2 separate regions of the Homo sapiens genome follow, and region 1 is linked to region 2. The links come from fine-mapping of genetic effects on gene expression. A gene starts in region 2. The other region holds a variant in brackets. All regions are shown on one strand. Distances are between the middles of the regions.

Evidence for each region. PIP is the estimated chance that this variant, and not a neighbour inherited with it, causes the effect. A credible set is the group of variants that fine-mapping cannot tell apart.
Region 1: its variant is the best candidate, but not a certain one, in a credible set for the expression of PNMA3 in whole blood (TOPMed, PIP 0.67).

The regions. Positions count from the first base shown.
Region 1 is chrX:153,010,921-153,016,294 of GRCh38, forward strand. No RefSeq gene overlaps it. Among named protein-coding and RNA genes, the nearest start is that of PNMA5, 19 kb to the left of the region's middle. The variant G/C (reference allele first, on the strand shown) is at 2,819.
Region 2 is chrX:153,053,414-153,058,716 of GRCh38, forward strand. It overlaps PNMA3 (PNMA family member 3), which reads left to right and starts at 3,057. Exons shown (of 2, transcript NM_013364.6): 1 at 3,057-3,225; 2 at 3,537-5,303. The coding sequence starts at 3,643. The coding sequence ends at 5,034.

The DNA.
Region 1 (5,374 bases), 42 kb before region 2:
TTCAGTAAGCTTGTCCTGCATTCCTACACAAAGACTATAACAGCAATATATTCAACAACAGGAAAGCAAAATAAGTAAAATTATCTCTAGTAAATTAAATTAGAAAAGGCTTTCCATGAACTGGACAATTGTTGGAACCAAGTTGATATGGGGTTGCTAGCCCATCCCAATATGTGCCCAGAATTAGAATACAGATCCAGATTTTTACATCACCCATCCCTCTTCTTTCTTCTGAATAGCAGTCAGAGGTCACTGGTTTGTTCACAGGAATAAGCAGGGTTAGTCTAAATTGAAGAAAAAAGTCCCAGAACAACTGATGAGACTAGAATCTATTAACATGTGTACCACAGTGTTCGAAAGAGTTTTTCTATCTCCAGTCTCCCATTTTTATTAAAAACAAATCATGGTAAGACCAATTTACTTTCTTATACTTGGCCTGATCATTCATATAAAGTGCAGCAAGAATAATTATTTTTAAATTAGCTTTGATGGAACTCTGTTCCATCGAAAGAATCTCAGATAAGACTTTTTTTCCATTTTTTTTTGACAGAGTCTCGCTCTGTCACCCAGGCTGGAGTGCAGTGGCATGATCTTGGCTCACTGCAACCTCCCCTCCCGGGTTCAAGCAATTCTCCGCCTCAGCCTCCCAAGTAGCTGGGATTACAGGTGCCTGCCACCACACCCAGCTAATTTTTTGTATTTTTAGTAGAGATGGGGTTTCACCATCTTGGCCAGGCAGGTCTTGAACTCCTGACCCCGTGATCTACCCGCCTCCGCCTCTGCCTCCAAAAGTGCTGGGATTATAGGCGTGAGCCCTGAAGACTTTTTTTTTTTTTAAAGCCAAGCCCAGCTGTGGGTTTATACTCTCAAATACTTACGAGTTGGGTAAATTCCTCTTCTCTTGAGGTCCTAAGATAACTGGGGGCACCTGGGCCTGTGAGAAAGTGACATGCTTTACTTACCACGGGTCAGGAACCCTGTACAGGGACTGTATAGACAACCTATGAGGCCAGTTTTCCCAAGGGGCTTTTATTGGCTCTATAAGTCAAGTTTTTTTCCTTAAAGGAAAGCACCCTATTCTCGTCAAAGCCTTGGTAAAATAACCAGTTTCCCCATATGCTCCAAATTGTGTTCATAGGTGTATACTTTACTTAATTGTTAAAAGCTTTAAATAGCTCAAAAGTTTCCTTGACTCTGGAAAACAAAACAAAGGATCAGCAACATTTTAAGCAAACAGCCAAGATTACTTCAAACTTCTATTAGCGCAATACATGCAGTTAGCTCCTGTCCTGTTTGATATTCATGAACATTTCAGCTGTCCATGAGTCCTGAAAGTTTTTCCTCTATCTGAATGTCACACTCTCCAAAGTTATCAGAAAACCTGCATTTAATAACACTTGTTAGGGTTCTATAGGTGATTATAAAACCACCTTCTGAAGAGTATTAAAACAAGATAACAATTGTCTGTGGATGACAAAATTTTAGGACAGCCACTATTAAAGCCACAATGGACAAAAAAATTTTGATTACCTCTGTGGTATACAACAATTTTACATAGCAATTATAACTATTGATAACACACACTAAGTTATATCAGAATTATAGGAGCTTCCATAATTTTGGAATACATGCCAATAACATATTTATACAAACACAGCCCAAAGAAGGCCAAACACCATTTCATATTTGACAATGCTTCCTGTATGACTTTTATACCAAATAAGCCAAAAGTCACTTTTGGACTTTAGGTGACCTAATATCTAAAAGATTAATTAGGTCAGAAAAAGACATATTTTATAATTTGATTTTGGGAAGCTTGTCAAATATCAAAGGTTTAAAACACTAGATATCACAAAATAGAATCCCAGGTGACCATAAGTCATTCATTTTGCCAAAATAATAACTTAAAAAATTTTTAAAAGGCAAAACCCCTTACTCATGAAGAGGGAAGACCTAGCTTTCCAAACAATGTCTCTTTTCTTTCCCCTCTTTTCCTGTAGTTTATTTAAAAGGCAAACAAAAATCTTTCATTATTTTTTAATAAAACATGAAAATCCTGTTCAAGAGAGAAAGCCACATTTCACCCTTTCCATTAATGCACTATTGATGTTAAACCCAATTCTTAATAAAACCTTATACACAAATCTATCCAATTTTAAAGTCTCATCATAAAGTAAGATTCTTATAAACCCTTGAAAAATTTTTGTTAAAGAGCAGATGAGTGCTTTATGAAAAGCCTGTTGTGCTTTTATTCCAATGTTCAATTTACAGAAAAACTGAATACCCTTTAATGTTAGCCAATATGTTCACACACAGAATTTCTTTTACAAGATTAATTTTTCACAAACCTTCCACAACTTGCTCAAATCTTCAGCTTTTTCCTACCTAACTTAAAACAATCCTTTAACCTTCTAAAAAAAATCCACATTCTCATGCCTTCTTTTAATCTTTTACCAAAAACACATTTCACTTTCCTTACACACCTTGCTTGTAAAACTGTTTTTATTTCCCCAAAATTACTAAAGTAATGTGAACTAAAAGGCATTATGCTTTTTATTTTTCTGATAAAATATTTAAGCACTATTTTTAAGCCAATTAATCAAAGCTCTTTCATAAACATCACACACACAACACATATAAATACACAGACAGAAGAATAACCAGTAGTTGTTAAGATTTTTCATTTGCCAGTTTCTTAAGTTTCTTTTAAAAGATGCAGTTTGTAGGGCCTATTAAGCAGGCACAGCTGAAAGGCAAAAACAGATTCCCCAAAATTAAGGTCCCATTTTTATACCAGATCCTGGATCCCAAAAAGAGG[G/C]AATTAGCCCATCTCCCATGGGACCCTTATCTCTCAGTGGGGGAATATCTCCATACCTTCCAGGTGGCCAGGAGCATGCTTTTCTAATCCAAACATGCAAAGAGCCACATATTGCCTCATGACTGCCATTAGCCATCCATAAAAGTATATTTCCTACCTTGTTATTACACAGCAAAGCTCTCTTATAATGTGAAGTAATTTCTGATACCTCAAAAAGTAAAAAACGTCAGATAATGCAATGCAAAACAGAACAGAACCTTAGATTTGGAAAGGGATCTATCTGCTTTCAATTCCTTGGGTTTTACAAAGAAAACAGAGGAGGTTTTTTCCCAAAACAGGGTCTGTGGCACCTCCTCTGTTTTTCCTCAAGAAGTCCAGGCTATTAGAGCTTGAATATCCGCTTTTAATTAAGCTGACTTTTAACCATAATGCTCTTTTTAAAAAGTTCTTTTAAATTTCTTATTACCCAACTTTAGCCAGGCCAAATGACCAATATTTCTGGCTCAGAGAAAGGAAAATTCAAGACAGTTCTTGGAGGAGAAGAGAATTAAAAAATGGTAAATCTTACCCAGATATCAATCAGAAAGGACTCATTCCCTAAGCCAGGAATTGAATCCGGGCAGCCATTATAATACGGCAAAACCTTAGCTGCCGAGCTATAGCACTGGGCAGTTTCCACTCCTCTTCTCAGAAGGAGCCTAGGACAGCCAATTTTGAGCTTGCAAAAGTTTTTAACTGCTCGAGATAATGTTTAGGGCTAACTGATATGAACCCCAAAATTCCTGTTCCCTGGATGGCAGAGACCGAGAGAAGGTACTGCCACGTGTTACAAAGTCAAGCTCTCAAGGACATTTTTCAACATGTAGTCTCGGCATAAGCTGAAAGCATTCCCCTTGAGAATTGCAATGAGACAAGAATGCCCTCTCCCACCACTGCTATTCAACATAGCACTGGAAGTCCTCGCCAGAGCAATCAGGCAAGAGAAGTAAATAAAAGCATCCAAATAGGAAGAGAGGAAGTCAAACTATCTCTCTTCGCAAATGATATAATTTTAAACCAAGGAAACTCCGTAGTCTCTGCCCAAAGGCTCCTAGATCTGACAAACTACTTCAGCAAAGTTTCAGGATACAATAATCAGTAGTATTTCTAGACATCAATAACATCCAAGCTGAAAGCCCAGTGAAGAATGCAATCCCATTCACAATTGCCACAAAATGAAGAAAATGCCTATAGGGATACAGCTAACCAGGGAGGTGAAAGATCTCTACAAGGAAAATTACAAAACATTGCTCAAAGATATCAGAGATGACACAAACAAATGGAAAGACATTCCATCCTCATGAATGGGAAGAATCAATATCATTAAAATGACCATACTGCCCAAAGCAATTTGCAGATTCAATGCTATTACTATCAAACTACTAATGTCATTTTTCTCAGAATTAGAAAAAAAGCAAAACGAACAAAGCCAGAGGTATCACACTACCCGACTTCAAACTCTACTACATTTACAAAACCATATGGTACTGATACAAAACAGGCACTTAGACGAATGGAACAGGATAGGGATCCCAGAAATAAAGTGGCACACTTACAACCATCTCATCTTCAACAAAGTTGAGAAAAACAGCAATGAGGAAAGGAACCCCTATTCAGTAAATCATGCAGGAATAATTGGCTAGCCATATGCAGAAGACTGAAACAGGATCCATTTCTTTCACCATATACAAAAACCAACTCAAGAGGAATTAAAACTTAAATGTAAGACTTAAGCTATAAAAATTGTAGAATAAAATCTGGGAAATAACATTCTAGACACAGGCATTACCAGAATCTCTGGGATACATTTAAAGCAGTGTGTAGAGGGAAATTTATAGCACTAAATGCCCACAAGAGAAAGCAGGAAAGATCTAAAATTGACACCCTAACATTCACAATTAAAAGAACTGGAGAAGCAAGAGCAAACACATTCAAAAGCTAGCAGAAGGCAAGAAATAACTAAGATCAGAGCAGAACTGAAGGAAATAGAGACACAAAAAACCCTTCAAAAAATCAATGAATCCAGGAGCTGGTTTTTTGAAAAGATCAACGAAATTGATAGACTGCTAGCAAGACTAATAAAGAAGAAAAGAAAGAAGAATCAAATAGACGCAATAAAAAATGATAAAGGAGATATCACTACCCATCCCACAGAAATACAAACTACCATCAGAGAATACTATAAACACCTCTACGCAAATAAACTAGAAAATCTAGAAGAAATGGATAAATTCCTGGACACATACACCCACCCAAGACTAAACCAGGAGGAAGTTGAATCCCTGAATAGACCAATAACAGACTCTGAAATTGAGGCAATAATTAATAGCCTACCAACCAGAAAAAGTCCAGGACCAGACGGATTCACAGCCGAATTCTACCAGAGGTACAAGCAGGAACTGGTACCATTCCTTCAGAAAATATTCCAATCAATAGAAAAAGAGGGAATCCTCCCTAACTCATTTTATGAGGCCAGCATCATCCTGATACCAAAGCCTGGCAGAGACACAACAAAAA
Region 2 (5,303 bases):
CATGAGAGATCCCATGAGTGAACTGCCCAGCTAAACCTTCTCTCAATTTCTCACTTACAAAATTGTGAGCAGAATAAAATGGTTGTTTTAAGCCAGTATGTTTTGGGTAGCTGGTTGTGCAGGAATAGTAACTTAATGGGAAGAAATATCCAAAGTAAATAAATAACTCCTATGAAAGAATTAAAAAAGAGAAGCACCCCAGTTGAGAATTGAGACAAAAATAGGAATTTCAATCAAGAGGAATAAAAAATGCCCCCCCAACCAAGGTATTAAATCTAATTCATAATCATAGAAATTCTACATAAAAGCATAATAACAATTGACATTCCTCAGGATTAACAACATTTAAGTCACACAATATGAAATGTTAGTGATGATATGGAGCTTGATGGAAACATAAATTTGTACAGCAACCCAGAAGACAATTTGGCAATGTCTCTGAATACTAAAGATAGTCTTTGATTCAGCAATGCCATGGCTAGGTACATAACTTAGAGGAACTCTCCAAGAATATTTAAAGCAGCATTGTTTCTGATAGTAAAAATGGGAAACAACTTAAATATCTGTCAATGGGAAAATTGATAAATTTTGGTACACACACACACACAATGGAATACTATACAGAAGTGAAAATTGAGGAATAAAATTTGCTTATATCAAAATGGTGATTCTCACAAACAATAATTAGTTAATACAGTGATGACTATGAATAGTATGATATCATTTCTGCCAAGTGTAAAAGAGACAAAGACAATTTTTTAGGGATATAGTCATTTGCAGAAAAAGCACGAAGAAATGCACATGGAGGACAAGAGTGGGAGACAACAGGGAAGGAATCTGCAGGCGCTTACCCTCACTGGCAGTGTTTTATGTCTTCATCCAGTTACTACATTCAGGAGTACTGGATGTACTTTTTAAGTACGTTTTGTATGTTAAATATTGCAGAATGTATTTTATAAAGTATTTAATTACCAGAAACTCTTTAAAAAATTCCCAGGCCTGTTTCAGACTCAGCAGATCAGATTGCAGAGGTGGGGCCCATGAATCTGCCCCTTTTGTGACCCCGATAGTCACTACTGGTCTAAGCCAGGGCAAGGCCACCCCGGTGGAGGTTGCTTCCTTCATGCTGTATTATGTTTTTCACTTTACAAGTAATAATGTTTATCCATCAGTTCCCCAACTTTGGTGCTGCTGTGTTATCTACCATGCAAGGAGATGGGGAAGCAAAAGTAATTAAGACATTTCCACTGGTTTCAAGGGCAAAGGTTAACTCCAATATAAAGGAGTTCTAAAACTTTTCAAATTGGACATATTCACATCTATTGTCTTGATACCAGTGTTTCCAAATCCTTTTTTCCCAATGCCCAGAACATCCACAGATCACTGCGTCTGTCTGGGAACTTCACAGGCTTCTTTCCGGAGACATTCCAGACACGCCCCTCTGCCTTGGCATGAATACTTGGCATCTCCCCTTGACATCTCAAGCTTTGTCATTTACTCACTGTGTGACCTTGGGCCAGTAGTGTCCCTTCTCTGAACCTCTGTTTCCACCCCTGCAAGTTGGGCAGATGAAGGTTCAGTTTGAAGCTGGTTGAGCCCTTGGAGTGACAAAGCAAGGGACTGTGAATGGACAAAAATGAGAGAAATAAATTCTAATAGGCATGAAGCAACCAGGGGAGAAATAGTCCCAATTCTACCCAAAGACTGATGGGCACTAATTTAGAATCCAGTCTCAATTCTACCTTCAATACGGTGTGTGACCTTGAAAATGTCTCTTAATCTCTCTGAGCCTCATGAGTCAAATCAGGATAATGTTAATACCTGCTTCAGAGTTCTGGTGAGGAGCAAATGAAATAACTCCTGTAAAGATGTTTCAGGAATTCTGTCTGACCAGGAAAAAGCCCTTGGGGCCATTTCTTCTTGGTCCCTGACAAGTGCCAGGCTGACGAGCAGAACTCAGGGTGGGGCAGGAAGTCAGTGGACAGTTTTGTGCCCCACTCACTGCAAGGTGGCCTCCCAGACTTGGCTGGATGGGTGAACCTGGCCTGAAAATCAACCACAAGCCCCTTTTCGTTGTGTTTGGAGAGGAGCTGAAGCTGTGTGAATAGGAGTTGAGCATGCGGCTGGCAGAGCAGGCAGGACCCACAGAACACCTGGGCCCACTGCCTGAGGGACAGTCACTCCCTTCTTCATTTGGCTGCTGCCCTGGGATCAAACGGATACAATAGAACCCACGGCGCACGGCTGCCAAGGAAGGGCAGGCCCAAGGGATTGGGCTCCAAGTCCTGGAAGTGGTTTCCCAAGTCACTAGATTTGCAGCGCACAAAACCGGAAAGGTCCCGGTAAACCTGTCCACTGGCACCTGGGCAGCGAAGCGCTTTGGCCGGAGGGCCTCAGGTCCCAGCAGCGGGATGGACAGCGGGGAGATGGCTGACCCTCCTTGGGGTGGTGTGCGTGACCTGCATGAGTGCCTGGGGCATCTCCTGCACGGAATGGCACCCGCACCAGGTGCCCCTGGCCTCGCCAGCCAGAGGACCAGTCCTGGACGGGGAGGGGGAGGACAAGAGCAGGTGAACAGGCCCCAGAACCCGGCTCCCTGACCCTGGCCATAATGCAGAGCTGCCTGGCGCACCTCAGACCACTCCCTGGCCCTCTGGTGGGCACGCCGGGGTGCAGACCCCTCGCCCCGCTGGCACCTCCGTGGCACGTGCGGGAGGGGCAGGAGCCGGGACCAGGAACCGCTGTGGTGAGAGCCAAAGGCACGGGGACTGGCCGCCACAGACCTTTGGCCACCGCAGTGGGGATGGGGGTGGGCGGGCGCTTGTGTGCCCGGGGGCCCGGGGGCCCCCGTGGCGGGGGGGCTAGGGGAGAGGAGCAGGTGACGTCACCCGGGGACCTGGGGCCCCCAGGGGCGGCGGCGAGAGCCCGACCTCGTGACCCGTCCGCGCCAATGGCCCTGCGGTCTCCCGGACGACGCGGAGGGGTCCGCGCTGCACCGCCGCCGCGCCCCCGCCCCGTGTCCGCACTGCAGAGAGCCGCGGCGAGCAGGCGCCGGCGCACTGGCCCACGTGCTGCGCGAGCGAGGGAGAGCCACAGTCTGAGCGAACGTCCGCGCTGGGAGCCAGGGGTGCCCGACCCCCGTCCGCCGCCGCCGCCGCCGCCGCGCATAGCCCCCGGAGAGCCCTCTGGGGACCCCGACCAGAAGGGACCTTGCCCTGGGAGAAGGTAACAGACCCACCTGGGGAGGGAGACGCTGGGCCCCGGGAGACTCCGCCGCCCCTCGCCTGTCCGCCCTATCAGAACTGAAGCAGCCTGCAGGGCAGGGGTCCAGGGTCCTGGGGCAGCGCGGGGAGGGGGCTGAGGCCCGCAGAGACCCCACGGGGGGTGGGGGTGGGGGGCTGGGCAGGGGCGGGGCCTGGCTGCAGAGGCGCCGCCCGGGGAGGAGGGCGGCTGGGGGTGGGGGTGGGGGTGGGCGTGGATGTGGGCGTGCGGAGAGGTGGGCATTAACCTCGCTCTCGCCCTGCTCGCATTCACAGGCTGTGGAGACCTGGGCCTTCTGCGATCACCCTAGGAGTTGATCCAGATATGTGCCTCACGCCCTGATCACTCCCCCCAAATTAGTATCCGCAGAGATTCGAGGACATGCCGTTGACCTTGTTACAGGACTGGTGTCGGGGGGAACACCTGAACACCCGGAGGTGCATGCTCATCCTGGGGATCCCCGAGGACTGTGGCGAGGATGAGTTTGAGGAGACACTCCAGGAGGCTTGCAGGCACCTGGGCAGATACAGGGTGATTGGCAGGATGTTTAGGAGGGAGGAGAACGCCCAGGCGATTCTACTGGAGCTGGCACAAGATATCGACTATGCTTTGCTCCCAAGGGAAATACCAGGAAAGGGGGGGCCCTGGGAAGTGATTGTAAAACCCCGTAACTCAGATGGGGAATTTCTCAACAGACTGAACCGCTTCTTAGAGGAGGAGAGGCGGACCGTGTCAGATATGAACCGAGTCCTCGGGTCGGACACCAATTGTTCGGCTCCAAGAGTGACTATATCACCAGAGTTCTGGACCTGGGCCCAGACTCTGGGGGCAGCAGTGCAGCCTCTGCTAGAACAAATGTTGTACCGAGAACTAAGAGTGTTTTCTGGGAACACCATATCCATCCCAGGTGCACTGGCCTTTGATGCCTGGCTTGAGCACACCACTGAGATGCTACAGATGTGGCAGGTGCCCGAGGGGGAAAAGAGGCGGAGGCTGATGGAATGCTTACGGGGCCCTGCTCTCCAGGTGGTCAGTGGGCTCCGGGCCAGCAATGCTTCCATAACTGTGGAGGAGTGCCTGGCTGCCTTGCAGCAGGTGTTCGGACCTGTGGAGAGCCATAAAATTGCCCAGGTGAAGTTGTGTAAAGCCTATCAGGAGGCAGGAGAGAAAGTATCTAGCTTTGTGTTACGTTTGGAACCCCTGCTCCAAAGAGCTGTAGAAAACAATGTGGTATCACGTAGAAACGTGAATCAGACTCGCCTGAAACGAGTCTTAAGTGGGGCCACCCTTCCTGACAAACTCCGAGATAAGCTTAAGCTGATGAAACAGCGAAGGAAGCCTCCTGGTTTCCTGGCCCTGGTGAAGCTCCTGCGTGAGGAGGAGGAATGGGAGGCCACTTTAGGTCCAGATAGGGAGAGTCTGGAGGGGCTGGAAGTAGCCCCAAGGCCACCTGCCAGGATCACTGGGGTTGGGGCAGTACCTCTCCCTGCCTCTGGCAACAGTTTTGATGCGAGGCCTTCCCAGGGCTACCGGCGCCGGAGGGGCAGAGGCCAACACCGAAGGGGTGGTGTGGCAAGGGCTGGCTCTCGAGGCTCAAGAAAACGGAAACGCCACACATTCTGCTATAGCTGTGGGGAAGACGGCCACATCAGGGTACAGTGCATCAACCCCTCCAACCTGCTCTTGGTAAAGCAGAAGAAACAGGCTGCAGTTGAGTCGGGAAACGGGAACTGGGCTTGGGACAAGAGCCATCCCAAGTCCAAGGCCAAGTAGGCTCGGGAGAACAGGGCAACATTTCCTACCACAGGCCAAGGAGACAAAAGAGATATTGGAAGGAGGGGAAAGAGAAGCCCAGACAAACAGCAGATGAGTTGAGTGGGGCAGAGGGACAGGGCAGCCAGACCAAGGCCAAGCCTTCTCACCCTTGGCCAGCTGGAAGGGACTTCAGCAACCAAGACCACCTGGCAACAGGCTCAGTGGGGGTCAGGTCCAGGTCCCCGAAGAGGTGCTGGAGAGGAAAGCAGGGAGCCACTGCATCCAGC